Linked DNA regions of Homo sapiens. The protein of the gene in region 1 purifies or fractionates together with the protein of each later gene. This does not show direct contact. Each region holds a gene or a part of one and is shown on either strand. Other genes may lie near its edges.

Region 1 (3,500 bases):
TGTTTTATTTTTTCCTTCAGAAAATATTTTATTCAGCTTTCCATAATAGACAAAAGAAAAAATTCTCACTCTACTGTTTATGAAGCATACCACAAATGTTGATACTTTCTGGCTGTTTCAAATCTTTCGTACACAGTTAACCTAAAACTCTTCAAACATCATCTGAATAAATCTCCTCTCTGATCTTTTCACATGGTCCTGCATGTGACACACATCTTCACCAGAGGCATCTTCCTATTCACTTAGCCTTTTGTAAAAACCAAAAATTCTCGTGCTTGACAATACCCCCAACCACTCTAGTTGCATGAGAAGTACCTCAGTTAAAAACTCAAACTCACAGAAAATGTCATTTGCTTTTTGCCCTAAATAATTCTTTTTGTTTTGATGGAAAATCTGCCCTTCTATTAGCCATTAGCCAATTTGGAAAGCAGTCCTGTTGTGGACTGAAAGAAGCTATAACACATCCATGCTACACTTCTCATTTTCCAGACTTTCAAACACCACTCACATAAATATATCTAAATACTTTACATTTACAGCTCAGAATTATGAGCTAGAAAGCAAAAGATGCATAAGCAAAGCAGATCTCACCTTTGCAGAGGTTTCAAACCATCCGGCAAAGCCATGTTCTTTGCAGAATTGGTCCACCTGGGAAGGACTCTGGCTACTGTCCTTGTTCTGGTCACATTTGTTAGCCAAGAGGACAGCAGGGATAGGGCTGCCATTTGGAAGATGAACTTTACTATCCAGATCACTTTTCCATTTTAAGACTGCCTCAAATGTGGAACTTCTTGATATATCAAAGACTACAAAAGCACCAACAGCTTCCTTGTAGTATACTCGGGTCATGTTGCCAAATCGCTCCTGCCCTAGACATAAATATAAGAAAAAATTAAAAACTTGTAATTCAGACAGAGTCTACATTTAGGTATAACCCCTTTTACCCCAAGAGCAACACTATGAACAAATGTCTTCCATTCCACAGCAATATAACCTGGTGTGATTAAGGCTATCCATACAGACCATGACCCATAGAGCAGATGTGTCTGATAATTTGGTTTAAGTACATAATGAATTAGTTTTATGTTCTGTACAACATATTCTCCATAAAAACCAATATGACAATATTTAAAGCTACAAAGTCTGTCATTTATTCCGACTCGTCTCCCCTTAGTCTAAGAGAAGAGAGGCACTAAAGGAAAACATAAAGCTGGAAGTAGAGGAAGAAGAGACAAGAATAGAAGAAATGAAGCCTGCAGGAAGGAGATAAGTGCAGTGGGTAACATGCTAGTCAAATAGATTAGGGCTGGACATGAGATAAAGTAGTTCATGTTCTCAACTCATCTCTCCTTCATATCTCTAGCCCATACCCACTTCTGACTCAATATGCAAGATTTCACCCCTGTAAGTAGTAGATACATGAAAATCTGTTTCAGAACAAAAGGCACAACTGGTTGTGTTGTTACAAGAAGAATCAATTCCAGGGTTCTTCAAATGTCATTGTACTTTTAAAATAATTTATGTCAAACACTTTGGGAAAAATCTGCTTTGTACATTATATAGGACTTTGCAAAGCGTTCTCTTACTATCTGCTATTGTACTAATCTTTGGCATAGGAAAGACCCTTCTTTTCATCTGACAGATGTAACAACAGGAAAATGGATGCTTGGCCAGGATTATAGTGGCACTGACTAAAGAAGACAGGACTAGAATCCAGGTCTTCTGACTCCCACACACCTATAGAAGTGGGATGCTAGCCTTTCTGAACTATCTTGCAGTTGCCTTGACTTAGTTACTGACTACAGTGTGAAGGAAAAATGATTGGCAATCAATGCACATCTAAGATGTATCACTCTGTTCTATGATAAAGACACTTTCTTCTTGAAACACATGAGCAACAGGCTTTATCTACATTTTATTGACACATTTTCTCTGCACAGATGCAAAGATACCCCAAAATATAAAATTCTTCCTTCTCCAAACTCTACAATGCAATATAATTTTATATATTGTTTTAGGGAATAATGGAAGAAGAATAAAACAATGGTCAAACGTGAATGCATAAATTTAAGGTTTGTTTTGTGATGACTCCTCATATGGTTTAACTGAAGCTGTACTGTAATAGTCCAAAGGTCTAAATTTTACTGTAACAAATGGTCACATATGAAACCCTACTATTATGCTCATATTTTATTGTGATGTAAATCTGACCATTATATAGTTCATTGGCTCATAATGCTGACATTTATAAAAACTTACATGATATGCCAACTGTTCAAAATCGCTATTCTGCAGAAAGACTATATGCATTGAAATGATTCAGACTCCAATTTCAAATGCAGTGCACACATTACCAACCACTTCCATTTTTATATATTTTAATTATTGAATATGAAAAGACTAAGCAACAAGATATGACAGTCTTAAATTAGGAAATTGAAAAAGTAAGATTTCAAGATAATTACATGGTAATAAACTATTCCTTTGGACTATATCTTTAATTTAGAAAAGAGAGTGGGGTGACAAATGAGTAAAAGAACAGTTAGAAACCTAGAAGTTAACAAAGAGTTGTTAAACTTTAGTGACTGTTGCTTTTTTTTTTTTTTTTTTGTGAATCATCTGTAAATTTCAAGTATTTCCTTTTACTCGTGCTCATGAAAGATGATAGGAGAGTTGTGAAAAAAAAGACAAAGGGATATTACTAGGTATACTAATCGACAAAGTATAAGATGCAGCAAGGCAATCAGGATCCACATTCTATTTTGGATGGGAATCAAAACAATGTAAAATAAGTTTAGGCATAAATTATATAGTTTATATCTTCCAAGCACACATTTTATGCTTGGGTAAATATTATTTATATGAACTTCAGAGCAGACTGTTCCCAATTTGTCCTTTGGCCCAAAGGAGAGTTACTCATTCAGATTTTTATTAAAAAATGTTGATCCTAAAAAGCAAATCACTCAGTCAATACATGAAGGCTAAAGTATACTAGACCTAAATGGACAAACTTGTTTTTTTAAGATTTAACCTAGACCAGTCTTTCAATTTGCCTGAAAAATGCTATAGTGACTAATAAGCAATAAGCATATAATAGTAAACCAAATACTACTTTACCTACACTGAGCATTAAAAGGAAGATCAGAGACATCTCTTGCTATATCTTGAGTATGCATTTATTAAGATCTCTGTAAAGTGTTATCAAAGACTTCAAGATTTTAGTATATTTCAGTTATGTTTTGAGCAGCAGTCCTAAAGTACGTGTGAGTTAAGAGATGGCAATTGTCTAACACAAAAACTGCACTAAACTGCATCTGTATTTTAAAGCCAGATTCCTTCAATGCCGTAAGAACAGATTTGTGTATCTGAGGATCACAGTGGTTCTTAACCTGAAGAGTTCAGCTGAATCTGCTTAGCTACATGTGTAGAAAACATTTGATAATTCTAGCCTATCATACTTGCCACAGCTTTCAAGCATAGAGATTCGTCATAATTTCTTC
Region 2 (3,500 bases), on another chromosome or scaffold:
CATTATTGGTTCCAGGAGCCTCTGGCTGCTTATCATCACCATCAAAGATAATGTCTTCTGGATTTGGAGGTGGAGGGCAGAATTCTTCAGTTGGAAAGATCTCCTGGAAAAGTGTTTCAGCTTGCTTGACAGCATGCTCATTTCCCAGGCCACAGTCAGGCCCAGAGCAGACATAAACATTGGAAGGCAAGCCATTATACGAGCTTCTGCTGATTCCCGAGGAATCTCTCATATTAAAATAAAGAGCCCACAAGAGTCTTGGCTTTGTAAGTTCTTCCTCGTTTATTTCTGTTTCAGTATACGGAGTGAATAATTTCTTCACCACTGATTCTAAGTCTTCTCTTGCTGTTTTAGAAGATGAACATGTCAAATGTACCAGATAGGTGTCCTTCATGCATGTCATGGTTGAAGAACATAATTCTGTGACCCGTACAGCACAAGCTCCTGGCTCTGCTGGAGGAACTATCAGAATGGAAGTCTGCTGATCTAAATCTGTCTTTAGTATAGACTGATCTGTAATGAGTACTGCCCTAGAGATCTGCTTATACTGCACATTTGAGCATGTTTCCTCAGAAAGGTAACTGTCTTCCACAATAAAATATTTAGCATTTATTCTTTGACCAAAGTGATCTATAATTGCTTTACATCGTCCAGATTCTTTGTCGACTACAAAGCATTGTACTTTATGACGAAGACAATAGATTCCACCAAAAACTGCACACATCCTACAGAAACCCTGGGGAATTTCTCCTTGGCCATACAAGGGAAATAAAAAGGGGGTGTTGCCAAACCGTCCGAGACACTGAAGGAAGTTTTTAGTTGCGTTAAGACCATCTATTGTAGTGCAAGATGATTCTGATGTCATTGCAATTGAGTGCAGTACAAAATGTTGAAGGTTGGGAGTTAGTTTTTTAGTTTTTAAGTATTCTGAAAATGAACACTGCCTGAAAGCTTGGTATTCATCAGGATGTTGTTCATACTCTAAACAAAATGTGAGAAATTTCATTAGCATCCTCTTTTCAACCATGGTGAGTTCCTTGCTATTAAAGACATCTGCTCTGGAACAAGGAACTTGTTCTACCTTTCCTTCCCGAAATGCAAGAATCCTAGTGACATTTTTAAATTCTACATAACGACTAACATCTGATTTGATTAAAAGATCAATTAGCAATCCTTGAGAATACAGCAGTTTTGACACCAAATCAATATTAAACCTCCTGCCTTCTTTAACTATTTGAGAGTAAGTAATCCTATTTCTAATTGGTTCATCGGCCTTATCTTCTACTGTAGATTTGCTTTCATCTTTATCTCCATCTTTATCTGAAACTGTGTGCATACAAGTTTTATCTCCACAATACTTTTCCTTCTCCACTGATTCCTCTACATCAGTTACTTCTAGTGAAATCTCTGTATCACTTTTCTGAGTGTGTTTTGCAGGCATTTCGTCGCTATTAAAATACGATAACTGGCTTTCTTCAGGTAATGCAGAATCCAGAACTTCAGTGAAGGTATTAGACACCCCCAAAGAAGGATTTTTCTGCAGAGCACCAATCTCTTCAACGTTGTCCTCCATATCCTGACTGGCGTAGCAAAAAGCTTCTGTGTGTTGAATAGTTTCATCCTTCTTGCGAAGAGTGATGGCTTCTTCTGTTTCATGGATCAGGTCCTGCCATACAACAGTACTTTCTTCCCCAATGTCATTGTTTTGCTGATACTCCTTCAACCAGGATAGCAATCCTGAAAAGCTGAAACTAGCCCAGTTTCCTCCATAGTAGCTTCTTGAATCAATATGCAGAACCCTCTGACCACTTCTTGAACATGCAGCTGCAAGGATGGATTCGGGCAAACCTGTCCCTATTATAACCACATCAAACTCTGTGGGAAGATTGTCCGCCATTTTAGGAAGTAACAGCGTCTGGTGACAACTGCTGATGAAAGAAATGAGGTGTGATTATGCTGTAATAAAATCTGTCCTTCTGATGTTCCAGTTATCCCAGAAGCACTGAAGTTGCAGGTCCTAGCTGTTTAACGGTTACCCTTTTAAAATATTTTTTTTCTTATAAGTCAGTAGCATAAAAACATGAGCAAGTACATCTAATCACATCTGAGAATACTAAAATGGATGTGTGGTTTCATTTCTGCATTTCATCTTAGCAGTAAATGTCAAAATGCATCATATATGCATTTGTGACTGGAACTCTTCTCTGAAAGAAGAAAATTCAAGAAAGAATACATTGTAAACAATATAAGAGAAAAATAATTTCATGCAACAATGACAATCCATTGGAGTGTGACATCTTATTTGGACATAAACCTCTACTAAAGCATGTCTTAAATGCTTTCTCACATATTTTCTAATTTCTTGAGAATGGACAATAGAGATATAACAGCCCTCCCAAGAATCAGGCAACATAGTAATAGAGAATGAACATAATGTTCCACAAAAATAAAGAAGAAATAACATAATACAATTCTCTAACTTTAGCTTTTAAGAAAACTATCATGTGAATAAATCTATACACAGCTGTGAGCTTAGACTAAAAGGAACGCATGGCTCCACTGTTTATAGAAACAGATTATAAACTATGTGCATACTGCCATGATTCAAAATATTTCTGTGGCCATTACAGTCTATGTGTGATTCCAGAACAGCTGAATATAAGACCTTTCCATGCCACAACCACCCTTAGGATCTCATGGTAGCAACATGAGACTATTTCTACTCAATTACTAGTCAGATTATTACAAAAGGATTAATTCAGTAAAACAACTGGCCATTTAAAAATATTTAGGCTCATAATAGCCCTGAGGAGGAAAATGTATTAAAAATATTATATGAATGTACACATGCATATAAGTAATAAAGGAAAAAAGTGTGTAAGTGTAAGTAAAAAAGGAAAACTTCTGATTTCATATTAAAATATCTTAACATAAATAATACCTACTTCTAACATTTGAATACAGTGATGTTTGCATTTCGCCACTGTCTCTGCAACCCTGAATCTCTGCATCCCAAGCAAAAGGTCTATCTAAACATCCTCTGCCAAGACTAACACTGTTTGTTCTTATTTTTGAAGGGGAAGTTTAAAAAAAAAAAAATAATAAGGTTCTCCTGTTAACTTTGAGCATAATGCTGGTTACATTCCATGTGCGGAAGACATCTGTGTGATGCCCTGTGTGGCCAGAGGTAGAAAGGCCAAGGTGCTGAAGAGCATACTCACCTGAAAGTCTTTAGGCTAAAGCAACAATACTGCTAAACTTTCTAATATTCATCATTGCACAGTTTTGAGCTCTGGTTTTCACTACTGTTAAACCTACTGAAATATAAATCAGTACAAGCTGTACCTGTCTAGCCCAAGATGACTAATAATCCTGGATACTGGAAAAACAAGCCATTCAATTGGAACTTAGATTAAATTGCATAGGGCACACACCTTTAGTTTAACTAAAATGGCAATCCTAACAGTCCTGTCTAGTCAAAGCCTCTGTCTCAAAAATAT

Evidence for each region.
Region 2: the proteins of RAB32 (region 1) and CHML purify together in Homo sapiens (affinity purification with mass spectrometry; 4 studies listed by BioGRID and IntAct, with this or other methods). This does not show direct contact.

Annotation. Positions count from the first base shown.
Region 1 is NC_000006.12:146,546,833-146,550,332, reverse strand, and holds part of RAB32 (ras-related protein Rab-32), read right to left. Parts: intron 870-3,500; coding exon 592-869; intron 1-591. UniProt on the Homo sapiens protein: The small GTPases Rab are key regulators of intracellular membrane trafficking, from the formation of transport vesicles to their fusion with membranes.
Region 2 is NC_000001.11:241,633,870-241,637,369, forward strand, and holds part of CHML (rab proteins geranylgeranyltransferase component A 2), read right to left. Parts: intron 2,326-3,500; exon of another isoform or gene 2,205-2,325; coding exon of another isoform or gene 2,164-2,204; 5' UTR 1,929-2,163; coding exon of another isoform or gene 1,898-1,928; coding exon 1-1,897. UniProt on the Homo sapiens protein: Substrate-binding subunit (component A) of the Rab geranylgeranyltransferase (GGTase) complex. Binds unprenylated Rab proteins and presents the substrate peptide to the catalytic component B.